Homo sapiens: one gene and its partners. The protein of the gene in region 1 interacts with the protein of each later gene in a pairwise test. Each region holds a gene or a part of one and is shown in the gene's direction. Other genes may lie near its edges.

Region 1 (6,844 bases):
ACAGAAGAAGGCTGATGTGCTGATACCTGACGAAAGAGATTCTAAAGCAAAGGCATCATTAGAGATAATGGTGTAGAACACCACACCGAGCAACGGCAGCACATATTTTCTTTCAAAGTACAAATATATCATTATAAAAACTGACCATACGCTTGTCCATGATGCAGATGTCATCATAGGTCGAGACATTTATGTTTTATAAGTTCAGCTTCTAGATTCGGGGGTGCCTGTGCAGGTTTGTCACTGGGTGTACTGCAGGACGCCGATGTTTGCGGTACAGGCGGTCCTGTCGCCCAGCTCATGAGCACAGTCCCCAACAGTTAGTTTTTCAGCCCGTGTCCCTCCCCAGTCGTCCTAGTATCTCATGTCACCATCTTTATGTCCACGTACTTGAAGAAACTTAAGTCGTGTAGAGTATGTTCCCTGACCACGGTGCAGCTGAGGCTAGAAATAAATTTTTTTTAAAAAAATAGAACTATCTCACGTTTGAAAATAAACGGTTCTAAATAACGTATTAATCGAAGACAAAATTATAATGGAAATGAGAAGAAATTTCAGTTGAATAGCAAAAGTACATATCAAAACTTGTGGAATGGAATATTTCATCAAAACTTGTGGAAAGGAATATTTGCGTCTGCCATGCTAGGTTTTCTTCTGTGGAATCAAACACCTGAGTGTGGAATTAGTTTGTGATTCTTATGTATATTAAAATATCCTAAGCATTTATTTGCTTTCTTGCTATATTACACCAGTTACCATTAAGACTGGAGCACTAAGTGTTAAGGGCCACCCTCCCTGAGATTTATTTGGTATATATGCAAAACTGACAAGTCTGTTTCTTTCAACAAGTGCCTACTATGGTCGGTGCGTGTACTGAGCTCTTGAGAGGGTTTAAAGGCAGGGTGTGACGACGACAGGTGCAAAACCCTTTAAAAACCCTGGATGCTATTACCAGCGTTAAGAACAGTCCTGGCCCCAGGACTAATAAAGGAGATAGGACCTGTATGCCACAGTGACTGAGGCAGAAGGAGGCAATAGGTGACATCAGTATTGGACCTCAGGGTCTTTGTCATCAATAGGGCCACTTAGGAGTCACCCAACACAGTTGTTCAGAGCATATGAGCTCTATTTCCATCTAAAGTGTTTGAAGGAAAATGTACTTTAAAAAGTCCTAATGATGCTGTCTTTGGAAGTTTATCTTGAGCTAAGTAACTCATTTATGTAACATCAGGACAGCTGGGATTGCTCCAGGCATCCTGTAGAGAGAGCGATACACTCACGTATGATAGAATATATGCACACACAGGTGACACTGTAACATAAATGCATATAGATGTACATACATATTTATATGTGGCCCGCACACTTACTCTGTTCCTCTCTCAAGTGGCTTCTGAAAGCGCACGCACAGCGATACCCATGCTTGGAGTTGGGAGGTGACACCTCCAGGAATGATAACTAATGCTGTGTTAAATAACTTTGCATATTTAAAAATGTGATCGGTAACTTCTATGACCGTGGTTCTTAAACCTGAATGGGCCTCAGAATCACCTGGAGGGCTGTAAAGCATATCGCAGGGCTCACCCCGCGGACTGTGGCCTCGGCAGGCCCGGGGCAAAGCCTGAAAAGCTCTGCTTTTCTCACAGATTCCCAGGAGCTGAGGCTGCGGGGTCTGGGCCCCACCTTGAGAATAAACACCCAGATCATATCGATCATTTCATTCAATTGATCAGTCATTCCAAATAGTACTTTTATGTCCAAAACTAATCTCAGAACATACCTCACAAGTTGAAACACTTTGCAAGGTCTGGACTAGAATGTGACCCTTTTTCTGAGGTATAATTTTGAAGGAAGAAAAGATCTTGCTTTTCAGGCATATGTGGAAAGTATCTCACACTTAAAAACAATTTACAGAAAACCTGAATTACAAAGCATCAATTGGAGGTAACTGTGTATATTTCCAAGTAATTTTTCCTTTTACAATGTATAGAGAACTCTTCTACTTTCAATAATTTATTTAGATATTATTAGATATTTGAAAGGCCAAGGAATAAAGAAAATTAAAATTAAAGCCTTAGGAAACGTTACCGATTCAAGACCCTAAATTAAGATACAGCTGCTTGGCAATTATAATTACATTCAGAGTGAAAGAGAATTTGACTCATAAATAGAAAAGCAGCTTCCACCAGGCTTCCAAGTACGGCTAATCCCAAAACACAGGTGCCTGGAAGATCCTCAGCCACCCCCTTCATTCAAACCCCAACCCTTGTGGACTGCCTGCTGTGTTCACAGAATGTTCTTTACTCAAAAGGACCTCTCATCCTTAAAGCCAATACTCATTCTTCTAACATCCCAGGGAGAAAGGCAGCTCATAGTCTCCACAGCACTCGACCCTGCGCTGTCTCACGATCTTTTTGCAGAAGGGAGAGAATTGGAAGAGAACTCCATGTCCTCAAAGGCACCTTCAGAAGTCTGGTGATTTAAATACACACTACGTTCTGCCAGGTTGCTCCACATTAATAAAAAAAAAAAAAAAAGAAAAAGTGAACGTGAGGACTCCAGTAGACTAGAATATTTGAAACCTGGACAGTCATGGACCATCCAAAATGCATTTTCCCCATCACATATCTAAATGTGTGAGATCTCCACGGGACTTGTTCATTTCATCCTTCTTTGTGCTTCAAGCCGGATTCCATGAAGCAGATGTAACTGCTGAATCGGCACTTCTCACTGCTGGACAAATAACCCCCCGAATTTCAGTGACTGAAAGCCAGAGCTTCGGTCTCATAGGACAGTTCAGGTGTCCTGGCTTGCAGGCAACATGCCAGCCTGTGGGGCTCGGGAACTGTCTCCCTCTGCCCTTTATCTGCCACCCCCCGGGCCTGGAGAACACCCAGAAGAGACATGAGCCACGTCCATCTGGAAGAACTACTTCACGTGGCCCCACCTGGGCATGGGGGAATGGGAAATGTCATCTCTGGGTGAGCCACAGCTCTGTACTTGAAAGGACAAGCAAGAGGGCAGGAAGTGTGGCTGACAGTCACCATTGGCACAACCTTTTACACACCTTATTCTCCTTTGCTTTACACTCTTCACATGTACTAAAAAGGAGCCGCTGGTGTGGCCCTGAATGAGCCACCTACCCGTGCCTCAGATGACACTGGTGGCCACTCTGTAATGACTCAGACCTTTCTAGTGTAGGATGGCTTGAGCCCGGGAGGCCGAGGCTGAGTGAGCATTGATGGCCCCAAGCACTCCAGTTTGGGTGACAGAGCGAGATGCTGTCTCCACCAAACCAAACAAAAATACCAAAAAAAACAAAGTACTGTATTCAATTAATAAACGTTGAAGTGATAATATTTTGGATCTGTTGGGTCAGATACAATATTAAAATTAATTTCACCTTTTAAAAAACTTAATGTGACTGCCAGAAATTTTAAAATTACATACGTAGCTCACAGTATGTTTCTATGGGACAGAGCTGATCCTGCGAAATTCGAACTTTTCTCTCAACTTTTAATTTCAAATGTGTTCCTGCTAATGGTCAAAGCTCACAACCAAGAAAACAGCAGGGGAGGGAAACAATATACCCTTTTCCCCTACCCTCCTAAATTCTTCAGCTGGAGCCCTGTAAGTTAAGCTTAACGAGAAAATTACACGGATTTACTTAGTAAGTCCCATGTGGTATGGAAGCCTTCCTAAGGCAGCGCAGACCGGAAGAGATAGTGCAGACCCGAAGAGGCAGCGGCGACCCGAAGGGGCAGCGGAGACCCGAAGAGACAGTAACGCCTGAGCGCTTTCTATGCTAGGTTGGATGAGGACACAGAGGTCGTGGGGAAGCATGACAGGACAAGGGGTGAGCTGAGGGTGGTCGGTGGGAACCACGGCAAGGCCTGTGTGCTGTCTCCTCCCGGCTCCCTCCGTCTTTGGAGACGAGGGTGCCTCTCACAGGAGGGTCCTGTGACCCACTTTAGGGGTGGGGAGAGGTCAGACGGTCCCTCCTGCAGCTGTCATTTCTCAAATTCCTTTGGGAAGGAATGTTTTTTCCTTAAAATATTCAGTATGCCAAGGTGCCGTATTTTGGGGTAGTGTGTTCTGGACTCCATCAGATAGGGGTTCTTGTGGTCATCTGTCCAGATTATCTGGATTTATAGTTAAGTAAAATAGACATATATCTATTTCCCTAAAAAGTATTATTCGAAGACAGAGACGAGGAAGGTTACCAAAATAGATGGTCAGGCTCGAGAGCGCTTCCCTGCAACCTCCACCGAGCTCAGGTGTGAGCTTACCCGCCCCCGCCTCCTCCTCAGTTCACAGAAATCAGCCACCGCATCCTGTGCTCATACAACACCAACATTGAAGAGCTCTTTGCAGAAATCGATCAGTGCTTGGCCATAAATCGAAGTGTTCTTCAGCAGTTGGAAGAAAAATGTGGCCATGAGATCACAGAAGAGGAATGGGAGAAAATCCAAGTGCAGGTAGGTTTGGCTGGCAGCCTGGCAACCAGCAGACTCAGCTGCAGCTGCAGAGGCTGTGGGGAGTGGCATGTGGGGGGAGGTCGAGGACTCACTTTGGGGAGCCTAGGAGTGTCAGGCCCGGGGTGCAGCCGTGGAGGCTGTGGGGGTGGCATGTCGGGGGAGGTCGAGGACTCACTTTGGGAAGCCTAGGAGTGTCAGTCCCGGGGTAACCGCTGCCCTAGCTGCCCCTGCACCTGTGGTAGGACTTTCCTCATGGGCTTTAGGGTGACGGCAAAGGTCCCTTCAGTTTGAAATTCTGGAAGTTCCTGTTGGATGTTGCTTATCACAGGTGGGTTACTAACCCTTTCCACAGTTCCCAGGAGTAACAGAGTATATGTGTGTGTATATATATATGTATATATATAAATAAAATGCATGTGATTTTAACACAGAATGAAACTTCCGCATGTTTCGAAGACCCATGTCTCGGGGCACATGGTTCGCATTTCAGTTTAAGTAACTTTCTGCTGTGATGAAACTAACCCGCGTGGCCTCTTCCCGTCCTGTGTGCCGCAGGCTCTGCGCCGGGAGACCCACGAGTGCTCCATCTGCCTGGCCCCTCTCTCCGCTGCTGGCGGTCAGCGCGTGGGTGCAGGCAGGCGTTCCAGAGAGATGGCCCTCCTGTCCTGCTCACATGTGTTCCACCATGCGTGTCTGCTGGCACTAGAGGAGTTCTCCGTGGGAGACAGGCCTCCTTTCCATGCCTGTCCTCTCTGCCGCTCCTGCTACCAGAAGAAGATTCTTGAATGTTGAATTCATAGTCAAGGAAAGTTAGGTAATTCTGAGGAAAAAAGTTTACCATCATTTTGGATGAACTGCATGAGTTCTGGGTTAAGTACTACAATGTAATCTGTTTCCCAGGGAAATAAGCTATTGGTAGTTGTAGGAAATCTTAGTATATTTTAAAAGCTGACATCCCACCTAATTTTAATCTTTGGTCTCTAAAAAGTAAATTTCAAATTTATGAGTTTAATCACTTCAAATATGAATAGCAAAAAATGAGAGCTTGCTTACTTCTAAAAATTGAGGTTAAGATATAGCTAGTGTCTGAACGACACTCCTTAAAGTAAGTTCCAAATGTAAAACACTCCTTAAGTTCCAAATGTTTTCCGCTAATAGTCTGTCCTAAAGCCTTTGCCATTCCTAATACTCGTTTTGTAATAATTGCTGTATTTCTGTGTAATAAAATATAAAAATAAAATATTCAGTGGTATTCAACATCAAAAAAGTGCAAATTTTAATGTCTTAGAGCAATAAAGACTGTTTTAGTTCACACATTTTAAAAAAAAGTGAACCTTTTTGGATAAGAATTGTTTTTGTCACTGGTTTACTATTACTGGGAGCTTGGTTATTTACAGTAACCAGTTACAGTCTCATCGGTTAGGTTACCCCTAGCCGAGTAACAGATAAAGCCCCAACTCTCAGTGGCTCGCTGAAGACACATGATTTCTGAGGTGTCCAACCCATGTCAGCCATGGGTGAGGCAGGGCGAGGGTACACCATGTGTGACCCTGGCTCCTTTTGTCTTGTGACACAGTCTCCTTTGCCCCCGAGTCCCCAGTGAATCCTGTCACTGCTGGTGGAGGGGCAGGAGGACATTGTTCCAGGCCATGCTTGGGAGTGGCGCTCATCACTCCAGCCACAGTAACTACAAGGGGCAAGGAAAGGGCAGGGTGTAGGCCTAAGAGGAAGAGGCCAAGTGGGTGTGCACATGGCATGGGCTCAGAATAACCCAGCATCTAATGTGAGAAGAAATGCCAAAATTTCTATTTATTCTTATCTCATCCCTTAGAAAAAATACTCTCCTATGTTTTGTGATGTACACATTATATAGCTACATATGTATGTATCATTTATGAATAAATATGCATATATTGGGATGTGCTCATTTTTTAAGGATGTATACTATCAAAAAATTTGCAGACTAATTTGGAGAATGCTTTAAACAATGAGTAAGCACTTTTATTCTAAGAGAGCAGAGGGAAACTGAATCACAGAACCTCAATTTTCTGTAAGCTGACATCTCTCTCCCCATAGCGTTGACAGGCAAAGCACAGGCACGTGTCAAAGGCCAGAGCAGTCCGATTCCGCCGCCCTAAACTTTGGATCTAGAAGGAGAGTCCCGGAGATACATGGATCATTCAGTGATGGGAAGAGCCCAGGAAAGGTTGTGCCTAAGGCTGTGCCCAACACTTCTTCCGGGGCTTTCTCATCACATCTGTGAGCCATGCCATCCACCCCGTAAACCTTCCGTGCCTATGTTGGCAGAGTCCATCTCTATTCTTTGCAACCAAGTGCAGTACTTTACTGACACAGGAACTAGTGTT
Region 2 (7,987 bases), on another chromosome or scaffold:
ACAGATGCCTTAGCGCCACACTTGAGACGGCATCCTTGATGAGGCTGTGGGGGTGATTGGTCATTGAAGAAATGGAGATCAAGAAAAACAGCTTATTCAGGGTGACAGCTATGGGAAGTCAGAAGCAGGACTGGAACTCCCCATCCTTGGCTCTGGCCACCGCCATGGAACTTGAAGGAGCCCCGTTGGGGATCCCGCTGTGGGGGCTCAGCCCCTGCTGGTGCCTCCTCCTCAGCCGTCCCTGAAGCAGGTTTCTCCCAGCAGGAGCCGAGGGTGCGCCTGCGCTCCGGGGCCCAGGTGGGCGAGGGCCGGGTGGAAGTGCTCATGAACCGCCAGTGGGGCACGGTCTGTGACCACAGGTGGAACCTCATCTCTGCCAGTGTCGTGTGTCGTCAGCTGGGCTTTGGCTCTGCTCGGGAGGCCCTCTTTGGGGCCCGGCTGGGCCAAGGTGAGTGAGACAGCCTGGGAGGGGTTAGAAGGCCTGGATATGCCACTGGTCCATGTCTTGAAGGCCCTGGGGTGACAGGGCCAGGACAGAAAGTTATCCCCCTCTGTGAAGGGGAAGCCACAAGTGTGGGGTTACGGAGATGGAGCCTCGCACACAGCACCTCTCTCCCCATCTAGGGCTAGGGCCCATCCACCTGAGTGAGGTGCGCTGCAGGGGATATGAGCGGACCCTCAGCGACTGCCCTGCCCTGGAAGGGTCCCAGAATGGTTGCCAACATGAGAATGATGCTGCTGTCAGGTGCAATGTCCCTAACATGGGCTTTCAGAATCAGGTGAGTTTGGGTCTGAGCATGGCCTCAGGCTGGGGGCCGGGAAACCCTGGGGAGTCCCCAGGACACCACATCGAGCTAGCGGGGAGAGGTCCAGGAGGAGCGGCTAGCGCTTCTGCTTTGGGCACCAGTCTGCCTTCCCTTAGAGCCGACCTGGCTGCAGCCCCTCCGAAATGTCAGAGGCCACAGGGGCTCTGCAGATGGATGTGCTCTCCCATACCCGTCTCGGGTCCCCTGTGAAGCTGAGAAAGAAGGTGCCTGGGAAAGAGGGCCACAGGGCTGTCGGCACGAGGGAGTCTGTGTGGGATGCTCAGGGCAAAGTGTCAGTGCTAACATGGACTGTGAGCAAGTCACTGGTGCCACTGTAAAATGGGGTTCACGCTCTCAGGGGGTCACTGTGAATGAGGCAAGGGACATGAAAGCCCTTTGCAAATTGCCAGTTGTCGTTAATGGTGGAGGGCAAGTGCCAGAGCAGGAGGAGCCCCTGGTCCAGGCACTTTGAGTCAGATTTCTCTAGCAGGCAGGGACATTAGAGACTACCTGCTACACTGTCCTCACCTTACAGAGAAGGAGACCAAGGCAGAGAAGGGGACTGTCTTGTCTAGGGTGACACAGTGAGCTGGCTTGGGCAGACCTCCAGGCTCGCAGCCCTGAGCTCTTCCCTGCAAGGCTACCCCACTCCTCACACACCCCTCGCCATTGCAGGTGCGCTTGGCTGGTGGGCGTATCCCTGAGGAGGGGCTATTGGAGGTGCAGGTGGAGGTGAACGGGGTCCCACGCTGGGGGAGCGTGTGCAGTGAAAACTGGGGGCTCACCGAAGCCATGGTGGCCTGCCGACAGCTCGGCCTGGGTTTTGCCATCCATGCCTACAAGGTAGGTCCCTCTGTTGTTTCTTCCGTATGACCTCTCACCCTCCTGTTCTGAGGCCCAAAACTTCCTGTGCTAAAGCTGCTGCCTCTTTGCCCATTTGGCAATTCATTACTGAGTGAAACTATGAGCCGACATGATGCTGAGTGCTGGGAACAGTGTGGTAAACAAGAAGACATAGTCCTAATGAAATCGTCAATGAGGGACACATTTGCATCTGCAGGAAAGATGAATAGAAATTAGTCAGACAAGGTGGAGGAGGAATGAATAGCTTATGCAAAAGCCCTGTGGCCAGAGAAAGCTTGATTCAGCTGAGGAAATCAGGGCCAGGGATTGTAGTGTGGCTCTCTCTCGAGAGTGCTGTCAAACATGAGGGCAGAGGAGGCAGGGGCAAGATCACTCAAAGCTTGCAATCCACATGTTTGAAAGATTTCTTCCTTTGCTGTTTGGAAAACGTTGGGTGGAGATTAACATGAATGCAAGGAAACACACTCAGGAGGCTATTGTAGTAGCCCAGGTGAGAAATGAGGCTGGACTGGACCAGGTAGTCCAGGAGAAATAAGTGGATAGATCTAAAATACATCAAAAAATAAAATCAAGAGGACTTAGGCATGACCGCAACAGAGAAACCTCTGCACTTGCACCCACACTGGCTGCCGCACAGTGTGGACTGGGCAACCCTGAGCACAACTGACGATCTGGGCCGCTTGAGGAGCAGCTGGGGAAATGTGAGCACAGCCCCCAGGGAGAGGGGCGGGGAACAGGACCCTCCTCTGCCATCTGGAAGAGAGAGGGGTGTAGGGCCAGTAGTGGAAGCCACGGTGGGTGGATTTTTACCTCCATATGTGGTGGGGATTTCTAACATCAGAAGGGTCCAAATGTGTCATGGACTGCCCCAGGGAATTCGGGTTCTCATCACTGAAGATTTTCAGGCCCAGGCTGGACACAACCCGGTGGGGGTGGTATGACTGAGGCCACACCTCAGATGGGAGTCAGGAGGTGACTCCAAAGGCACGCTGACTGGGTGACGCTGGCTGTCTTCTTAGGAAACCTGGTTCTGGTCGGGGACGCCAAGGGCCCAGGAGGTGGTGATGAGTGGGGTGCGCTGCTCAGGCACAGAGCTGGCCCTGCAGCAGTGCCAGAGGCACGGGCCGGTGCACTGCTCCCACGGTGGCGGGCGCTTCCTGGCTGGAGTCTCCTGCATGGACAGTGAGTGACGGAGGGCTCACAGGGCTGGGGACAGGTAGGCCTGTGCTCCCCTTCAGGGAGGGCCCTGCATGCTGGTCCCAGGTCTATGGCCAGCAGCATGGGGGAATGAAAGTACCAGCTCTGCCATTTCCCAGCTGTGTGGCCAAATCACCCATCCCATCAGGATCCATACCCTGCCCCCTCACGGAGTTATTGTGAGAAAGAACACTGAGAACATGAGGAAGCACAAGGACACGGAACGGCGGTTTTCAACTTTGGGTTATGACCAACAGTTACAAACAATGAAACAGGACAGAAAACAGCAAGGGCAGTTTTTCCTTGGAACTATGTGTATACTGGGTTACAGCATAAAATGTATTTCTTACTGTGGTTTGTAGTCAGAAAAGCAGTTTGAAAGCTGTCGTAGAGGACATACAAATATGAGCACACCCGGGGCCAAGGCCCAGCTGTGTGTTCTCTTCCTGAGCTGTGGGATTTACCCAAAAAGACTTTGGGACAAGGCCATCTGTGGCATTGCTCTGCCCCACAAACCCAGATTCTTAGGGCAGCAGCATCTCTGACATCTCCCAGCCAGGTCAGTGCCAAGATGGACTATATCCAGCCCAAAGGTTACAGATAGCATCAACCCAAGTGGCCACTTGACCTTGTTCGTGGCCAAATTTCGACACCAAGATATCCTTCATCTTTGTCAGTGAGCTCCTGGCTTCCTCTCTGTCCAGGGCACCCTGGGGAGAACACTGGGCCCATCCATCAGACCCTCCCCTGCAGGGATGGGGCATGAGAGTGGACCTCCCCATCACCAAGGCCTCCCAGCACGTGGGGAGCCTGCTCCTCACTTGACTCCCCTTCCTGGGAACCTCGAACCCCTCCCTGCTCCACTGCCTACAGTGGGAGCGCTCTTCTTGAACACATTTGATCCTTCACGACAACTTGGCACAGTCAGCCAATCTGCAGTCTCTGTAACCACCTGTTTTTCCTCCCTGGCTTTTCACATTGCTTTCTTTCCTTTACTCTCTCTTCTCATTCTCTCTGAAAGCTCGCCTTCTTTCACCAAGAAACTCTAGGTTTGTCAGTGGGCACTTCCTGGCTCTCTCCAATATATACCACAGGACCCTACATGGCCAACTGCCAGATGCAGATGGCTCCAGCCTGGGGCAAGCTGCGGCCGGCCTGCCCAGGTGGCATGCATGCTGTGGTCAGTGGTGTGGCAGGGCCTCACTTCCGCCCAGGACTACTTTAGTGATAGTGATTTTTAGTGACAGTACAGGCAAAGTATCCAGGTTAGGTATCAGCAGAGCTTTTTGAGAGGATTATATGAACTAAGCTACATAAAGGCACTTTACAGGCTTAAAAGCATTTTACAAAATAAATACTAGCTTCAACTGCATGTTTACTTAGGCCAGACATGTTACAGGTGTCATCAGATTAATATCACCATTATCTTCATCTTACAGATGATGAAAATGAGAGACAAAATGGTTAAGCAGTTATAGAGCTAGTGAATTATACAGTCAGAAAGTAAGCCAAGAATGAACCCAGGTGGCCTGGCTCCAAAACCAGCAAGCCTAACCATGACACTGTAGCTGCCTCCCAGGTTAAGGTGATAGACTTCCTTTAAATGTTATTAGAACTCACCATCTCCTGACTCTTAAAACTGCCCTTCTTTTGTGGGGTCCTCTCGGAGGGTTTAATCTGGGGGCAAGCTTGCCCTCTGTGCTGGAGACTAAGACTGGCTGCCTTTCCACCCTTTGAGTCACTGCCATGCCCTCCGCCGCCCCAGGTGCACCAGACCTGGTGATGAACGCCCAGCTAGTGCAGGAGACGGCCTACTTGGAGGACCGCCCGCTCAGCCAGCTGTATTGTGCCCACGAGGAGAACTGCCTCTCCAAGTCTGCGGATCACATGGACTGGCCCTACGGATACCGCCGCCTATTGCGCTTCTCCACACAGATCTACAATCTGGGCCGGACTGACTTTCGTCCAAAGACTGGACGCGATAGCTGGGTTTGGCACCAGTGCCACAGGTTAGAGCCTGCCCATGCATTGGCACTAGAGGGTTAGGAACAAAAAGCAGGGTCCAGGGAGCAGTTTGGCCCTTCCCTGGCCACAGGCAAGTTTTCCTGGGAGGGGTGTGCGCTCTCCTTGCTGGCCTTGCCTGCAGGAGGCAGTGAGGACAGCGGCATCCACCTGCCCCTCCATCGCTCTCGCCTTCACTATGTCAATGGTGCCCGTGGGGTCTGTTTCCCACAGCAACATCCCATAGAGGCGTCACCGCCAGCAGAGTTGTTCTGTTAGAATGGTATTTGACACTTTTCCTATGTTGGATCATAGGCCTTGTCTTCAGAAGCCAGGTAAAGTGGGGACTCCCAGGAACCTGGGGGCCCAAAATAGACATCCCATCCAGGGTGCTGGCTCTGCAGGAAAAGCTCGCTGATTCCTTCAGTAGTAAGGCAAGGCCCTCAAAGAACAGCATGAACAGACTGCCACTAAAAAAGTGACAATGAACATTCTTTCCTATCAGGAGCTTCCAGACCAGAGAGAGGGAGAGACAATGCCTGTGACAAAGGCAGAATTGTTTTTTCTTCTTCAGAACATAGCCACGGGTGGAGAAAGTGGAAAGGAATGGGCAATGACTTTGGGACTTGGTCTCGCCTGAGATAATAAGCACCTTTCCCTGTAGCATGAACAGAGCTGTCATTATAACTGGATTGGAAACAATGGTAGCAATTTGGTCCCAGGCTTACAGGGACCCTCTTCCCAGCAGGTCAGCTCCTAGGCTGCTCACAGACCCGGTGCCCCGCCTCTCCCCCCAGTTCAGGCCTTGCTGTCAGGCACCAGCCTCCTGGAGGCGACCAGAGCAGGGCTTCTACCTCTTGCCTGGGTTGAGACCCTAGGTGGTGGGGGCAGCTGTACTTGCTGCCTGGCAGGGGTGCCAGCAAAGGAGGCTGTGCGTCACACTAATCTCGGGTTTGGGAGGGAGAAGGGCACTGCCTACTATAACTTTCCTCTCGGGTCATGATGGGGCCTGGGGCCTGTCTTCCCTACCAGCCCCTCCAGAGAGGACCCTCTCCTGTTGCTGCCGCACTGACAGCTCTACCCCTTCTGCAGGCATTACCACAGCATTGAGGTCTTCACCCACTACGACCTCCTCACTCTCAATGGCTCCAAGGTGGCTGAGGGGCACAAGGCCAGCTTCTGTCTGGAGGACACAAACTGCCCCACAGGTATGTGGTTTCCTGTCAGCACCTATCAGCATCTCCTTTTGTTATGTTCTTCAGCCCCTTTGGGATCAGGCTTTCTCTCTGCCCTGTTCAGCAGCCCAGGGCACCTGGAGACCCTGGCTTGAAAAGTTAGCATTCAAGGCAATTTCTTACCTTCTGAAATCTTACGCAGGAGGTTTTTACTTCCTCTGAATTCCCCACGCATTGTTCTTCTTTTAAAACACTCAGCACTTTCCATCTTGGAGAAGAGTTGCAGACCTGTCCTATCTCTGCTGAGCTCTCCGAGGGCAAGCATTGCCTGCTTCCTGTCTGCACACCCACAGTCCCTAACCCTTAGGAACTGCATGGTAAACACTGAATCTTTAGAGGTTTGGAAGGATGGATAGGCGGATGCACAAGTAAATTAGCACGGGAGCGTTGGAATCTCCCAACCACAGTTCCTAGTTCAACAGGGATTTGCACTGGAGCAGTCAAACAAATCCTATCTTTGTCACAATGTGGTTTGCTATGGTGCTGGATTCACAGCAGGATTCTAGCTCTGACGGTCCTTAATCTGTGAACTGGGCATGATGACACTGAACTGGTAAAGGAAATAAAAGACCTAGCAGAGTGCTTCGTCCTGCCTCAAAACCTGTCTGTCCCCTTCCTTACAGGACTGCAGCGGCGCTACGCATGTGCCAACTTTGGAGAACAGGGAGTGACTGTAGGCTGCTGGGACACCTACCGGCATGACATTGATTGCCAGTGGGTGGATATCACAGATGTGGGCCCCGGGAATTATATCTTCCAGGTAAGGCGGCTGGGGGATTCCCCACAGAGCCTGATTTCCTCCAGATGTTCCACAACTTTCCCTGAGGGCAAATGAAGGGAAGAATTTCCCATACAGGGTTTCCGACAGGCCTGTCACTTAAAGGAGCTGTCCTGTTAGGGAAGTAACAGTCAAGCTGGGTCCAATGAACCTGTGTTTGAGTATTGATTCAGTGAACACTGGATAAATCAGTTTCTCAGTTGGGACTTCTCAGTCCCTATCTGTAAAATGGGAACATCAGTACCTACCTCCTGGGTAATTGTTAAGAATTAATGAAGCAAATAGAAACACATGTAAGGATTATCACAGCCACAGTCAACTCATTCAGAAACCAAATCACCCATTTTCAGTTGTCCCCTCTTTCACTCTAGGTGATTGTGAACCCCCACTATGAAGTGGCAGAGTCAGATTTCTCCAACAATATGCTGCAGTGCCGCTGCAAGTATGATGGGCACCGGGTCTGGCTGCACAACTGCCACACAGGTAACTCCGAGCCACTGTGGAATCAGCCATCTATAGGCTCAGGGAGCTGGAACACTGTAAATGTACCCTCTGCTCCCACACTCCAGCGTGTGACTTGTATGTGTGTGGTGTGCAAAAGGCTATGGATGGAACAGAGATGCATTTCCTTTGACATCTTACAAGGCAGACTTCTAGAACTGGTCAGACCATCGGCTTCACCCAATAACTACATCTTCTACATCCCTGTTTGCACTTAAGGCTGTTTGATTGTAAACTCAGTTTCCAATCTGTTCTAGAATCTTTCCTGTCACCTCAAGCCATGTCAGGATTTTCAAGTCCATTATTTTTCCTTTCTCTTTCATATAGAAGTTAGGGTTAGGGTCCTCACAGGCAAAAGTAGTCCTCTTGCTCTGTGTTGCTGTCTCCAGCTGTGATCACTGCTTGCAAGAAGGGGACCATGGAAAACAGAGCCACTTACAGGATTGGTAGCATCAGTCAAAGGAAGCATCATGATCCAGTGGGGGCAGAGAAGAGGGGCTGTTCTGTCAGTAAAGACTCCCTCTATCTTCAAGGGTTAAAAATGCCCATATTTGCTATGGGATATGCATTCACTCATACTTGCATATGTGCGGTGGGATGGGGCA
Region 3 (7,987 bases), on another chromosome or scaffold:
GCATTTCTATAAAATGAAAATAATATAAAGTATATCCTTGGATCGTAATGATGTTAACTTGAAGGTGTTGTGACATCATTAGAAAATATGTTGTCTCACAACCCAAAAAATTATACCTTATTACTAAAAGTCACTCCTCTTCTTTTTATTTTTGAGACAGGGTCCTCACTCTGTCACTCAGGCTGGAGTGCAGTGGTGTGATCTCAACTCACTGCAACCTCTGCCTCCTGGGCTCAAGTGGTCACCCCACCTCAGCCTCCTGAGTAGCTGTGACCACAGGCACAGGCCACCACGCCTGGCTAGTTTTTGTACTTTTTTTTTTTTTTTTTTTAAACCATGACTCAGCCCTCAGGAGATCCTGAGAACATGTGCCCCTAATTTTTGTATTTTTTGAGATAGGGTCTTGCTCTGTCACCCAGGCTGGAGTGTAGTGGCACGATCATGGCTCACTGAAGCTTCTGCCTCCTGGGCTCAAGCGATCCTCCCTCCTCAGCCTCTTGAGCACCTGGGACTACAGGCATGAGCCACCACGTCCAGCTAATTTTTTTCTTTTTTAAGATGAGGTTTCACTATGTTATCCAGGCTGGTCTTGAACTCCTGGGTTCAAGGGATCCTCCAACCTCAGCTTCCCAAAGTACTGGGATTACAGGCATGAACCACTGCACCTGGCCCTCCTCTTCTAGTAATACTTTTAACAGGCATTGTCATCCAACTCCAGCTGAAAAATTAGTTACTTTCCTATGACTAGAGACCCCTGTTGTAATAAGGAAAACATCAATGTATAAAGGGAAGGAAATCCATTTATAAAATTTGTCATTTTTTGGTTACTTGAAAAATAATCAGAGCAGCAACTCAGATCTTGCTGGGTATCAATGGTAGACAGATTCTTGGCTAAGGAAGTTTAAATTTTCAGGACAAGTACTAAGCACTAAATGTTAACATTTCAGAATCGCATTGTTCACAGTGTTTATTTGAGAACTCATAAGTTGACTGATAACAAATCTCAGACATCGGCTTTCCAGTTTTTGACGCAGTATTAGATTTCTTGTGAAATTTTTAGCTTGAATTTAGCCACTAACTTCTTGTGTTTCCTAAGCTTAAGGAAAATGAAGAGGTGAAAAAAATAACATTTCCCCCTAACCATTGCTCGCCTTTCCTCCTCCTCTCTTCCAGATATTCCGAGTGGTGTGCATCTGTTTGGGTAATCCACCAGAGACATTCACCTGGGAATATCGAGACAAAGATAAAAATTATCAGAAAATTGGCCCCATAACACCCTTGGAGTTTTACAGGGAACATGTCAAGCCACTCTTCAATATGGAAGATAAGGTTGGTGAATGGCACTGGTAGTCACTGGCTGTTTACTTTCAAATGGCTGTTAACCACAGGGAATTGTATAAGATTCTTGGTTAGCATGTATGAGTATCAAACTAGACAGCAAACAAACATTTTTCCCCACTTCCTCTGAAGTATTTTATGCAGCTAATGAAGTTGGTGGTGCCAGGATTTATCAGCTTTTCCACAATGTTCCTCTTCAGAGACTTTTTAAACTGTAAGCCAGCAGTCATTTTAATTCCCACATGCGCCCCTGTATAGGACCAGAATCATTCTCAAGTGCAAAACAATGAAAGTGTGTTGGGTATTTCTTATCGTGGATTCAGAGCACTTTTGCACTGAGGTCCCCTCGGGGAACTCTCCTGTTGAAGGGAGTAATCTTAGTTTTTCCTGTTCCCTTTAGGTCTTCCTCATCTGCCTAGTAGGAGGATCAGAGCCTCTTCCTTTTATTGGCTTCTTGATCCTCTTCCAAGCAGATGCCTGTCTTGTAACTTGAGAACAGGGGCCTTGTGATTAGCTCTCCAATTTTTCTTACTCAGTGCATGTTATTTTTCAGAATGAGTTTTGAGGGCCGGGTGCGGTGGCTCATGCCTGTAATCCCAGCACACTGGGAGGCTGTGGTGAGTGGATCACCTGAGTTCGGGAGTTCGAGACCAGCCTGGCCAACATGGTGAAACTCCGTCTCTACTAAAAATACAAAAATTAGCCAGGCATGGTGGCGCACATCTGTAATCCCAGCTACTTGGGAGGCTGAAGCAGGAGAATCACTTGAACCTGGGAGGCGGAGGTTGCAGTGAGCCGAGATGGCGCCATTGCACTCCAGCCTGGGCGACAGAGTGAGATTCTGTCTCAAAAAAAAAAAAAAAAAAATTGCTTTTGGAGCAGTTCTTGCTAGTAGGAAAAACAGGTAGATGCACCTCCTAATTGTGTCTCTTACGCGAATTAGAATAAGCAAGGACCTCTCTCACATGTATTTTGCCACCTTGTGTTTCTTTGTTACTTAACAATGTGGCTGTAGTACTTAGCTTGTAGGCAGAGATGATGAGCTTGATGGAAACATGAACCTAGAGGAGAGCTGTGTGTTGCTTGACATTCCTGGTTTTGTGCCCTAATTAATGTGTTCTTGATCTTGATAGATTTGTTTAGTGAATGACCCTAGGCCCCAGCACAAGTACAACAAACTTTACACAGTGGAATACTTAAGCAATATGGTTGGAGGGAGAAAAACTCTATACAACAACCAGCCCATTGACTTCCTGAAAAAGATGGTTGCTGCCTCCATCAAAGATGGAGAGGTTGGTATTGTTTCTGTATTTTGCACATTGGGGTTAAAACATCTTTTACTTCTTTGGTATAATAGGAAGATGGGGTTTATGTTGACTTTCTTCCTCTTTCTTCTGTTTCTAGGCTGTGTGGTTTGGCTGTGATGTTGGAAAACACTTCAATAGCAAGCTGGGCCTCAGTGACATGAATCTGTGAGTGCAGGAAATTTAAAATGGAAAGTCATTTGTGGGTTGTTGCTGTTGGAGTGTGCTGTTGGTACAAAATGACTCTGCCGAGGTTCATCCAAAGATGAAGGTTGACCTAAGGGCGCGTCTCTTTCTTTGCATCCTTTAGAGTTTGAGGACTCATAGCAGAAACTCCACATACTTAAACACTCTAACCCAGGACATCAAAATCCCACTTTCTATCTGAGTGGAAATCGTTGGGCGTTCCTAAAAAGCCATCCTCTATGAGAAAGACACTTTAAAAAAATAATTGACTATTGCGGAAATGTGTTCAGTGCATTTGGGAGTGTAATGAAAGATTTTCCAGAGCCCCCGTTTGCTATGTTACTTTGGTAACTTTGTATTTTGTCATTGTGACAAGTGGGACTAATTTGCATGCATACTTTATAGCATTCCTCCTGGTCATTTATGACAATGAAGGTTAATTTGTAAACTAAATCATATAGGATTCCTTGACTGTTCACCATTCTCTATTTTAGGGTTACTTATAAATAGTTGTTACTTGTAGGAAGTTGAGTAAATATCTTGATAGAGAAATCTGCTAAAAAAAAGAATTAATGAGGTTTAAAAAATTTTTGAAAACAGGTACATGCAACTCCCAAGTGTGTCTCTCACACTAACTAGAACATGCAAGGACCTCTCTCACATGTATTTTGCCTTTTGTTTCTTTGTATTTAACAATGTGAGTGTAGTGCTTATGCAAAAATATTCCCCAATATTTTGGACATTATTTATTTAAATTTTAATCAGCAGTGATTTAAATGAATTCAGAAACTGGTTGGTTCCACCAGCTCAAAAGAGATCAGTTTTCTAAGAAGTTACTTCAAACGCTTTTTTCATTATTTTTTAAAGTTTTCTTGCCTAAATGACAATGTAAACTTGTCAGCTTCTGATGTGGAGAATTTATGTTTAATCATCTCCTTTTTTTCCTGCATACTCTTGTGACACATAGAGAATGGACTCCCACTGAGAGACTAAGTTCTGCATGTTCCATATTCTTTCTGAAGAGCTACAGCTAGAGCCTTATTTATTTGGAGCTGTTGAGCCCCTTCAGTTTCTTCTGAATTCCTTTTACAACCAAAAGCCAGTTTTCCCCATGATCGTACTCCCTTTATTTTGTACTATCATTCTTTTTACAGCTATGACCATGAGTTAGTGTTTGGTGTCTCCTTGAAGAACATGAATAAAGCGGAGAGGCTGACTTTTGGTGAGTCACTTATGACCCACGCCATGACCTTCACTGCTGTCTCAGAGAAGGTATGACCCTCAGCATGCCTGCTGGAGTGTTTGCACAGATGGATCTACATTCTCCTGTAGACTGTTTACCCAACAAAGCTTCATTCATAGTGTATATGATTTCTGTTAAAAGTTAGTTTCCAAGTAAGACATCGTACCTGCGTCACTTGGGGCTTGGCTGCGTGCTTAGAGGTAATATAAAAATAGGAACTTTCTATGAGGAGAATTTGGGTCAGCAGGGAGCGACCAAGTAACTGTTTCTGTAACTTTGGAAGGTCATGGTTTAAAGAGAAGTCAGCAAGGGAACTTGAGAGAAGATAACTTCTACTTTATAAGGAATCAAAATGTGCCCTGAAAGTGTTCATATCTTGATGACCTATGTTCAGATTTCCCTTCATTTGTCATTCAGATTCTTTTGCAGTAAAATGTCAATAACAGTAATTTGTGGACTCCATACCCATTTCTAGTTATATGCAGAGCTTCAGGAAATTGGATGTAAAGTATTTTGAATTTCCTGTGAAATAGTGTGTATAGTAATACCACTTTTTATAGGTTATAGAGTTGGAAACAACTGAAATTTTATCTTTCACAAATAAACTCCTCACTTCCAGTCAGTAAAAATAGATATTTTCACCTCTGTGCTCAGGATCATCAGGAAGGAAGAACTTGAACTACTTTAATTCTTTACCACCACAAGCAAAAATATTCTTTCTAGCCTAATTCCTGGAAAGTCACAGAATAACTACCTTATATAAATTGTTCTAGAAAATCATTTTTTTTTTTTTTTTTTGAGATGGAGTCTCACTCTGTCATCCAGGCAGGAGTGCTGTAGTGTGATCTCAGCTCACTGCAACCTCCACCTCTGGGGCTCAAAAGATTCTCCTGCCTCAGCCTTGCGAGTAGCTGGGATTACAAGTGCCCGCCAACACACCCAGCTGATTTTTTTGTATTTTTAGTAGAAGTGGGGTTTTGCCATGTTGGCCAGGCTGGTCTCGAACTCCTGACCTCAGGTGATCTGCCCGCCTCAGCTTCCCAAAGTGCTGGGATTACAGGCATGAGCCACCGCACCCAGCTAGAAAATGGTTTGATAGAGAATTGTTTTTGCTATCCTATCCACTAGATTTATGATCTTTAAAATGTTTAGAAATATCTTAGCATATCATTATGCCACATTTTCCTAACTAGCCTATCTAAAAGTCCTGATTTGCTTTTTATACTCTATGCAGAATTGTGAGTGGGATGGGGTTTTCTTTCTGTACCTTTTTCTCACCTCTTCCAACTACTTCACTTGAAGGGTGCCCTTTCAACCCCACAGCATCTAAGATCCCTGTGCTCTCTCTGTATTCAAAACTTGGTCTTAAAGGTTTAATTACATTCCTGCAAATTATAAGGCTAGTGCTTTAAGTAGTAGAACTCTGAGGTATTCTCAGTTTTATATGAGATCAAACACAGTATGGTGTAAAGGTGCCCTGAACTTAAGAGGCAGTCTTAATGCTGATACTCCTGATCCTCATGTAGTTTTCATAAATAAATGTAAAGGTTGAGGTCTTGTAAACCAGCGAGCTGTTTTCCTCATTATTCCATTCGTCAGTAATCTCAGCTCTGTAGTTAGCGAGACTCCCACACCAAGAAACAGGTTTTTAGGGTTACCCAGGAGAATGTGTGGAGTATAATTTGCATTACTTATGTAGATCAAGAAAAGTCATTTTAAAACAGCAAAAGGTGATTTAAGTGTTATCACCCCAATTTAACAAAATTCTCACATTTGAATTATAAACAAAACATAAAGTTAGGTTATAAAAGGAATTTTAGACCGGGTGCAGTGACTCACACCTGAAATCCCAGCACTTTGGGAGGCTGAGGCGGGAGGATCACCTGAGGTCAGGAGTTCAGGACTAGCCTGACCGACATGGCGAGACCCTGTCTCCACTAAAAATACAAAAATTAGCTGGGCATGGTGGCGTGCACCTGTAATTCCAGCAGCTACTCTGGAGGCTGAGGCAGGAGAATCCTTTGAACCCGGGAAGCGGAGGTTGCAGTGAGACAAGATTGCACCACTGCACTCCAGCCTGGGTGACAGAGCAAGACTCTGTCTCAAAAAAAAAAAAAAACAATAAATAAATAAATAAAATACATGAAAAGGTTTTTCAAATAAGGGTGCTTTATAACTAAACTAAAGTTCTTTAAATAAATTTTTAAACTATATAGAGTTCTGTTTTGTGTTTTTTTGTTGTTGTTTTTTTGTTTTTTTTGAGACTGAGTCTTGCTCTGTCGCCCAGGCTGGAGTGCAGTGGCACAATCTCAGCTCACTGCAACCTCCACCTCCTGGGTTCAAGCTATTCTCCTGCCTCAGCCTCCTGAGTGCAGGCGTGCACCATCGGCCTGGCTAATTTTTTTTTTTTTTTTTTTGTATTTTTAGTAGAGATAGGGTTTCGCCATGTTGGCCAGGCTGGTCTTGAACTCCTGACCTCAAGCAATCCACCTGCTTCGGCCTCCCAAAGTGCTGGGATTACAGGCATGAGCCACTGTGCCCAGCCGAGAATTTGTTTTGTTTGTTTGTTTGTTTTTAAAAAAACAAACAAACAAAAACTTGTAATTTCCAAGAAAAATTCAGCTTTTTATCATTTCTATCTCTGTTATAGAATACTCCTATTTTTCAGGAATAAAAATAATGAATACCACTGTCATTTTCTTGGGAACTTCCATTCTTTGATTAGCATGGGTTGTTTCCTTAGGAAAATGGAGCTACCTTACATGCTAATGGTATAAAGCAGAATTTATATTATTATACCTGGAATTTTATATTGAACATTTTCTCTTCATTCCACTAGAGTTTTTGATCCCAAAAACGAGTTTGAACTACACTTGAGTAATAGTACAGAGGTAAATGCATACTAGTGGTTATATTTCCACAATTTTCTTTCTTTTGTTGCTGATATCATGGAATCCCTATAAGGGAGTTCCAGGTATTAATCATTTTGTAATTGTAGATGACCCAGAGAACAATTTGATCTAGGTCACTCCAGGAATTCATTGGCCAAGGGGAAAACATAGGAAACATTTTCAGACTTAGAGTAACAAGTAACTATATCACTTTAGGTGACATCGATTCTAACAGTGATATTTAAAAGGAAAGTAAAGTTGGACTACAGTGGGAGGAATAGAAAACCAAAACAGACATATAATATGCCAGCTGCAGAATGTATAGTATATAACGATATGGTTTTAAAGGATTTGGGGGCAAAGAGTAAGGATTAGTACAGGTAAGGGTGTGTGAAACTTGTGAGTTTGTTGGCGCTATTTGTGAGACAGAAAATTACTGAGATCCAAGAAAACTGCCAAGAGTGGAGTGTTTGGGTTAGCAGAGCCAAAGAGAACCAAATCCCATATAGATGAGACTCATCATATAGTTATTTGCAAGTGGGAGTTGACAGATGAAATCATTAGGCGATAATACAGGGGTGAGTGCTCTTCTCATGCTACAAAGATTTAAGTTGCCTTGACATCAGTAAATGTCCTGGGTAAACATGAAAGAAAAAAGTCTTTTCCCAAATGGAGCCTTCCTCTTGTCCCTCTCTGTGTCACTATAGTAAAGGCTGTAAATGAAGGTTGTTGTGATGAGTATCACTGTCCCTTTAAGAAGACCAAAATTGAGCTTATTTTAATAATGAAGATGGAAGAAGGAGAACAGTAGAAGTGCCTGGCTTTTGTTTATGAAAATGGTCTTTTTACTTTTGCTTTGCCATTCAGTCTCTTCTTTGAAATTCAATATTTGTGTAACTGGATCAGTAAAAGAATGCATTTGGGAGAGTATCATTATTTGGTTTCCCCAAGTAGAAAATCAGGCAGTATGATGAGTTTGTTTTGTTTTGTTTAAAAAAGACTCTGACCAGGTTTTAGAATTATTC
Region 4 (7,987 bases), on another chromosome or scaffold:
TGAGAATCTAATGCCTGATCATCTGAGGTGGAACAGTTTCATCTGAAACCATCCACCTGCAAAAAAAGCCTGGGGACCACTGCTCTAGGGAGAACAAAAGGACTAAATAGTCAAATAAATTTTGGAAACCTGAGTTAAATAAAGTTAAGCGGATTTCTTTACTTATGAATTGTAAATCTCCTAGGAGGAGGATACAATATGTAATATTTATATAACTCATTTGAACTTAGAACCCTTTTTTCAAGGAACATCTGTTTTTACTGTGTGAATTGTTAGTTTTGTGCATAACATAATTGGGAAACAATACTCTAAATAAATGATTTTATACTCTGAGGACAGAAAATCATTGACAAAATTAGTTTGGGCACAGAGGGAAAGGGAATACACAGGAGTGATAATAATTTTCTCCAGTACCAGCCTCTAGGGGGCAGCCAGGATCAAAGTCTAGGTAAGAGAGGAGCCAGATTACTGCAACTTGCATGGTCTGATAACCTAAGTGTAGAGAAGGGCTGATTGGCAGTTACATGTGCCTTAGAGAGAACTCACCTAAAATAGCCAGTGCACGACCTTTCTATGTGCTAACAGAACAAAATAGCAACAATCTGACCCATCAAAACAGAGAGAATGTCTCGCAGTGTGTAAGGAAATTAAAATCCTGGAATTAAGTTTATATTTTTTTCTATTTCTGGTAATGAAGTTCTGATAGGGAAGTATTACTAAAATGCCTAAAAGTATGAGGGTTCTCAACTTTTTATTCTGTGTAAATGTTGTTTTTTGTCAATGATCAATTGTGGGATAACAGCTTCTACATTCTTAGTCTTCACAAACTGTGGGCATTTTCAGTGGGAAGTAAAATAAGCTTGCAACTTGATGTTATAGTTCCTTCTGTGAGGTTAATGGCTAATTCAGGAAGTTGGGAGTATGGCCAAAGAGTGTTGGCCAGTCCCCCTTGCCAACACACAATATGCCAACTGAGGAAATACATGGTTCTACATAATTTTAAGACTGTTTAAAAAGGAAGAGAAGCTGGGTGCGGTGGGTCACACCTGTAATCCTAGCACTCTGGGAGGCTGGGGCAGGCGGATTGCTTGAGCCAGGAGTTTGGGACCAGCCTGGGCAACATGGCAAAACCCCATTTTACAAAAAAATACAAAAACAAAAAAAACAAAAAAACAAAGAAACATTAGCTGGGTGTGGTGGTGCATTCCTGTAGTCCCAGCTACTCTGGAGGCTGAGGTAGGAGGATCACTGCAGCCTGGGGAGGTTGAAGCTGCAGTGAGCTGTGATGGTGCCACTGTACTCCAGCCTGGATGACAGAGTGAGACCCTGATTTTTTTTTTTTTTTTTTTTTTAAAAAAAGGAAATGAGAAGGCAAAAATCATGAATAAGAAAGGAGACATCACTACAAATTCTATACCTACAGACATTAAAAAGATAAAAAAAAACTATGAACAAATTTTTTGAACCAATTTTGACCATAATCAGTTTTGAAATAATCTGAATTTCTCTCTCTTCAAAATAGGCACAGCATCAGAAAACCTTCAGTGTTTCTCTGCAGAAACAAAATAAAATGAAATTTGGGAAAAATATGTATATAAATCGTGATAGAATTCCAGAGGAAAGGAATGAAACTGTATTGAAACATTCACTTGAAGAAGAGGATGAGAATGAAGAAGAGGTGATAGGTGTCTTTCTTTCTTTTCTATTATTAGATAATTTTTTTTCTTTTGGATTGTAATGTACATCTGTGTGATTTAGTCTTCCTGTATGCAAAATAAATTTATGTTGTAAAAGTTGTCAGAGTCAAAATGGAGTCAGTGTGTCAAACTTTGACAAAATGGAGGCTGAGAAGGCCGTGAAGGGAGGGCTGTCATGGACGATTAGCCTGGTATCAGGAGCTATCACAATAAATTTTTTGAAACCATAGCTTACTGCATCAGCCCTACAAGGACAGCTAGCCGCTTACATGTGAACACTTGTCTGTTTCAAAACAGGCCAGGCACAGTGGCTCACACAGGTAATCCCAGCACTTTGCAAGGTTGAGGTGGGTGGATCACTTGAGGCAGGAGTTTAAGACCAGCCTGGCCAACATGGTGAAACCCTGTCTCTACTAAAAATATAAAAATTAGCTGGGCATGGTGGTGGGCACCTCTAGTCCCAGCTACTTGGGAAGCTGAGACATGAGAATTGCTTGAACCCAGGAGGTGGAGGTTGTAGTGAGCCGACATTGTGCCACTGTACTCCAGCCTGGGAGACAGAGTGAGACCTTGTCTCAAAAAGAAGAAAAAAAACAAACAACTATCTTACAAGGTCAATCCAAAACTGTAAGGGCCTAACCATAACTCCAAAATTACAAGTCCTTTCTAGCAACTAGTGACACTCACCAGTGAACTTTCTTTCAAAACAATTTGCATAACAATCTGTCTCCCCGGTAAAACCCTAACCTCCTTTGTTCTGCAGACATGCCAGAGACCACCCTGGTCTGTGCATGTCCTGGATTTTAATCCTATTTCTTTGTTTATTCTCAAATAAATTTTTTTGCTAGGAAATTTTTCTGTATATATTTTTATTTCAAGTTGACAAAGTCAGTCAGATTGTATTGAGCTATTAGGACAATGGAGTCATCTGAAATGTTGGGCTAGATAATTGACAGATAAACATGATTGTAGATTATATTCCTAAATCTCTGGTAGTGGAATCTGTAGAAAAAGTGTAAATCTAATTTTTCTTTCTTTTTTTTTTTTTTGAGACGGGTTCTCACTGTGTCGCCCAGGCTGGAGTGCAGTGGCGCTATCTTGGCTCACTGCAACCTCTGCCTCCTGGGTTCAAGCAATTCTCCTGCCTCAGCCTCCCAAGTAGCTGGATTACAGGCATGCGCCACCATGCCCGGCTGGCTAATTTTTGTATTTTTATTAGAGACGGGGTTTCACCATGCTGGCCAGGCTGGTCTTGAACTCCTGGCCTGGTGATCTGTCCACCTCGGCCTCCCAAAGTGCTGGGATTACAGGTGTGGGCCACTGCGCCCAAATCTAATTATTTTTATAGTGATTACTTATATTTGAATTACCTGTTGTCAGATTTTTATTTCGTAATGTCTTGTCATTTGGCCTAATTCTGGATAGTCTACCTATTTAAAAAATTGGTGCTGAAATACTACAAAAATAACTCTACTATGATTAGTCTTTTAATGGAAAAAAAAAAAGTTCTAGTAAGTCTAGAAACCTTGAAATTATCCTTAAATATTTTCTTTCTTTCATCTTCTATATCCAAATTCATTCTCTCGTTCTTTTTTTCTTTCTTTTTTTTTTTTTAGAGATAGGGCTCACTGTGTTGCCCGTGAGTGCAGTGGTACAGTCATAGCTCACTACAGCCTGCAACTTCTGGGTCCAAGTGTTCTTCCCACTTCAGTCTCCCAAGTAGCTAGGACTAAAAGCACACTATCACCATGCCTGGCTAATTAAAAAAAAAAAATTTCTTATAGAGACAGAGGTCTCACTATGTTACCAAGGCTGGTCTTGAACTCAGATTATCTTAGCCTCAAATTATCCTCTCACTCAGCCTTCCAAAGTGCTGAGATTACAGGTGTGAGCCACCATGCCCGGCATCCTATTGCTTTCGAAAGTTTTTTCTACAGGGCTTGATGCCGTGGCTCATGCCTGTGATGCTAGCACTTTGGGAGGCCGAGGGGGGCAGATTGTTTGGGCCAGGAGTTTGAGACCTGCCTGGCCAACATGGCGAAACCCTTTTCCTACAAAAAATACAAAAAAATTGCCAGGCATAGTGCCTGTATTCCCAGCTACTGGGGAGGCTGAGGTGGGAGAATCACCTGAGCCAGAGGAGGTTGAGGATGCAGTGAGCTGTGATCATGTCACTACATACCAGCCTGGGTGACAGAGTGAGACGCCCATTTCAAAAAAATAAATAAAATTATCTCCACAGAATCTTCTATTGAACTTACCTTTTATCGTCCTTTTCAATTTTTTTTTAAATTTAGCTACTATCATAGGAACCTTGTTATTCCCAATTAATTTATAAGTTTTGCCTTGCCAATGAGATTTTAAATTCTTTTTCTAAGGACATAATTGGGATGCAGTAAGAATTTTTAGTTGAACCATACGACTATGTGCTCATGACTGCATTTGTGAATGGGTGAACAGCTGAGTGTTTACTATGTGCATTTCTTTTTTTTTTTTTTTGAGACAGGGTCTTACTCTGTCACCCAGGCTGGAGAGCAGTTGGCATAATCATGGCTTACTGTAACCTCAAACTCTTATGTTCAAATGCTCCTCCTGCTTCAGCCTCCCAAGTAGTTGGAACTACAGGCACATGCCTGTATATACTATATCCAGCTAATTTTTTTATATTTTTTGTAGAGATGGGGAACTGCCGTGTTGTCCAGGCTGGTCTTGAACTCCTGGCTTCAAGTGGTCCTTCTGCTTTGGCCTCCTAAAGTGCTGGGATTGTAGGCGTGAGCCACCACACCCAGCCACTATGTACATTTCTGCTGTATATCTGAGGATGAGGTGATACATATGTACATAGTCACACAAATATATATGTAGTATATATGTAATATATTTGTGTGAATATGTATGCACATATGTGTATGTGTGTATATATGTGTATATATGTATATATATGCGTATGTAGTGAATGTCTGCTATTGTACTGAATACAGACAAATGAACAGCTTCAAACAGTTAAATGCCTTCCTAATGTGGAATTAGTATGTCCTGATTAGTCCCTTGAAATTATTATTAGGTTTTTTGTCCCTTTAAATTAAATAAATATTTTTGACCTCTGCTTTTTTGTTCTTTCTAAATATTCAGAGGACCTCTGTATTATTTTCTCCTTTGAGGTTCAGAATGTTGAAAATAGACCATCTAGTCTTCTTACTTCAATTTTCCCCTTCCTGTTCTGTATATCTTTCCTGCTGGGAGCATCACCATCATGCCTTACCCCCAGACCTTTACATTTAGAGGAGCTTGGTGGTTTCCCTGTTCTCTCAGATCTATTTTACTACTATACTGCACTACATTTTGTTTTTATCATTTTCCCTAATAAGCAATGTTATAGTAAAAATAATTTAAGTTCACTCTGGAGATTCACATGAGTACAAATGTGTTCCTTTAAAAAGGGTTTATGTATTTCTCAAGTTTGAGAAACTTTATAGTACTACATTTCATCAATTGTAAGGCATTTTTTTTTCCACATAACATTTCAGAATATAGGATACATCTTAAAGATGATGGTGTTATAGTTTTAAGTGGTGGTGTTTTTTCTTTCTTAGCAGTCTGTAAAATAATACTGATAGTGTCTTTAATTCAGTGCAATAATGACCAATCATATGACATAGCTGCGTAAGAACAGGAACTTTGTCTATAGCCAAATCATGAAATCTGTGTATCATTTTTACCCAAAACAATAATAAGGTATCTAGTTATCCATAGCAGTTTTCTGTAATCTATCATACATATTAAAAATATACAATTTCTCTCCTTGGTTACCTTAAGTTGAAAACAGTCCACAGTGATAATAAACATACTACAAAGAATAAACTGCTGAAGAAATGCCAAAACAAAATAAAGAAGGTTTTGCGTTTATAGTGTATGCTTTCTATGGGGGAATTGAATAAATGTTGTAACACAAAGTTCATGAATCTTCTTGCCTATCTTTAACTTTACATTATCTAATGGTGGTCTAATAGTTTGACCTATAATTTTTTTAAAAATGGTTTAATTTTCAGATCTTAACTGTTCAGGATCTTGTTGATTTTTCCCCTGTTTATCGATGTTTGCACATTTATTCTGTTTTGGTAAGTATGTTTTATATTTATGTATATATAGCTTTATATTATTTAAAAGGCATGTATGTATTTTAGGCCCTAAAAATTGATCATATGCTGTAAATCTTCACATAATTCTTTGTGAAATATCCACTCTGTGTAAGGCACTTACATTTTTTGTTTACTTATCATAGTGTAATTTCAAGTGATATACCATTTCATGTATATTTTAAGAACCTTGTAATAGTATACTTCCATTTCTCCCTATTGCCTTTGTGCTGTTGTTACATCACAGTTCTTATAAGTTACTTTTACATGTGTATTCCATACTACATTGCTCTTATTTTTGATTTAATGTTCCTTTTTAAAAATAACTGCTTTATTGAGATCTAGTTCACATACGAAAAAACTTACCCTTTTAGAGTATACAATTCGGTGGTTTTAGCATATTCACAAGGATGTGCAACCATTACCACTACCTAATTCCAGAAATACCCATTACCCACCCCTCCAACCACCCCCAAAACATCAAAAATGTGTATCTGGCTGTTATTAGGTGGTGTGTTCTATAGATATTTGTTAGATGTAGTTGGTTTATAGGGTTGTTCACGTCTTTTACTTCCTTGTTGGTCTTCTGCCTATTCTGTTATTGAAAGTAGAAGTATTGGAGTCTTCAACTATAACTGTTGAATTGTCCATTTTTTCTTTCAGTTTTGCCAGTTTTTTATTCATGTATTTTTAGGGCCTTGTTGGCAGGTGAATATATGTTTATAATTGTTATGTCTTCCTGATGGATTGACCTTTTTTAAAAAAATCATAAAATATCTTTCTTCATAATATTTTTTGTCTTAAGGTCTGTTTGGCTTTAATTAGTATAGCCACTCCAGCTTTCTTCTGAGCACTATTGGCATAGCATGTTTTTCCCCATCCTTTTACTTTCAGTCTCTTTGTATCTTTGAATCTAAAGTATGTCTCCAGTAGGTAACACATAGTTCAGTCTGTTTTTTTAAATCCAGTCTGCTGATCTCTGCCTTTCAATTGGAGTGTTTAGTTCATTTACATTTAATGTAATTACTGGTAAGGTAGGATTTATGTCTGCTCTGATGTTTGCCATTTGTTTTAACATGTCTTATATCTTTTTTGTTCCTCTATTCCTCCATTAGTACTGTCTTGTGCATTAAATAGATATTTTCTTATGTACCATTTCATTTCCTTTGTCATTTCCTTTTTTTTTTTTTTTTGTGCTGGAGTTTTGCTCTTGTTGCCCAGGATGGAGTGCAATGGCATGATCTCAGATCACTGCAACCTCCGCCTCCTGGGTTCAAGTGATTCTCCTGCCTCAGCCTCCCAAGTAGCTGGGTTTACAGGCACCCGCCACCATGGCCAGCTAATTTTTTGTATTTTTTTAGTAGAAATGGGGTTTCACCTTGTTGGCCAGGCTGATCTCGAACTCCTGACTTTAGGTGATCCACCCGTCTCGGCCTCCCAAAGTGCTGGGGTTACAGGTGTGAGCCACCTAGCCCAGCCTATTTTCTTAGTATTAGCCCTGAGGATTGCAATTAACATCTTACTTTAAAACAATTCAGTTAGATTAATACCCTTTTCTTTGTGCTATTGTTTTCTTTCTTTCTTTTTTTTTTTTTTTGAGATAGGGTCTTGCTCTGTCACCCAAGATGGAGTGCAGTGGCGTGATCACAGCTCACTGCAGCCTTGACCTCTTTGGGCTCAAGCGATTCTCCCACTTGAGCCTCCCAAGTACCTGGGACTACAGGCTCATGCCACCATGCTTGGCTAATTTTTGTATTTTTGGTAGAGGTAGAGTTTACAGTATAGTCTTACTGTTTTATGCTGTAAATTTAATAAACTTTCATTAGCACAATAACTTCTGGCTGGTATATATAACCAAAAATTATTTGGTAAAGCTAATTTCTTTCTTTTTTTTTGAGACAGAGTCTTGCTCTGTTGCCTAGGCTGGAATGCAGTGGTGCCATCTTGGCTCACTACAACCTGCGCCTCCTGGGTTCAAGCGATTCTACTACCTTAGCCTCCCAAGTAGCTGGGATTACAGGCGCCTGCCACCACGCCTGACTAATTTTTGTATTTTTAGTAGAGACGGGGTTTCTCCATGTTGGCTAGCCTGGTCTCGAACTCCTGACCTCAGGTGATCTGCCCACCTCAGCCTCCCAAAGTGCTGGGATTACA

What was found.
Region 2: the proteins of RNF32 (region 1) and LOXL4 interact in a two-hybrid assay, tested with the Homo sapiens proteins (one study listed by BioGRID).
Region 3: the proteins of RNF32 (region 1) and BLMH interact in a two-hybrid assay, tested with the Homo sapiens proteins (one study listed by BioGRID and IntAct).
Region 4: the proteins of RNF32 (region 1) and EXOC6 interact in a two-hybrid assay, tested with the Homo sapiens proteins (one study listed by BioGRID).

The regions. Positions count from the first base shown.
Region 1 is NC_000007.14:156,671,386-156,678,229, forward strand, and holds the end of RNF32 (RING finger protein 32), read left to right. Parts: intron 1-4,310; coding exon 4,311-4,478; intron 4,479-4,909; coding exon of another isoform or gene 4,910-4,990; exon of another isoform or gene 4,991-5,033; coding exon 5,034-5,270; 3' UTR 5,271-5,745; downstream 5,746-6,844. UniProt on the Homo sapiens protein: May play a role in sperm formation.
Region 2 is NC_000010.11:98,250,442-98,258,428, reverse strand, and holds part of LOXL4 (lysyl oxidase homolog 4 precursor), read left to right. Parts: intron 1-261; coding exon of another isoform or gene 262-264; coding exon 265-448; intron 449-624; coding exon 625-779; intron 780-1,481; coding exon 1,482-1,649; intron 1,650-2,689; coding exon 2,690-2,852; intron 2,853-4,632; coding exon 4,633-4,876; intron 4,877-5,960; coding exon 5,961-6,076; intron 6,077-6,726; coding exon 6,727-6,863; intron 6,864-7,252; coding exon 7,253-7,364; intron 7,365-7,987. UniProt on the Homo sapiens protein: Catalyzes the oxidative deamination of lysine and hydroxylysine residues in collagen and elastin, resulting in the formation of covalent cross-linkages, and the stabilization of collagen and elastin fibers.
Region 3 is NC_000017.11:30,267,384-30,275,370, reverse strand, and holds part of BLMH (bleomycin hydrolase), read left to right. Parts: intron 1-1,173; coding exon 1,174-1,329; intron 1,330-2,471; coding exon 2,472-2,630; intron 2,631-2,742; coding exon 2,743-2,810; intron 2,811-3,982; coding exon 3,983-4,100; intron 4,101-7,987. UniProt on the Homo sapiens protein: The normal physiological role of BLM hydrolase is unknown, but it catalyzes the inactivation of the antitumor drug BLM (a glycopeptide) by hydrolyzing the carboxamide bond of its B-aminoalaninamide moiety thus protecting normal and malignant cells from BLM toxicity.
Region 4 is NC_000010.11:92,914,236-92,922,222, forward strand, and holds part of EXOC6 (exocyst complex component 6), read left to right. Parts: intron 1-1,522; coding exon 1,523-1,678; intron 1,679-5,746; coding exon 5,747-5,815; intron 5,816-7,987. UniProt on the Homo sapiens protein: Component of the exocyst complex involved in the docking of exocytic vesicles with fusion sites on the plasma membrane.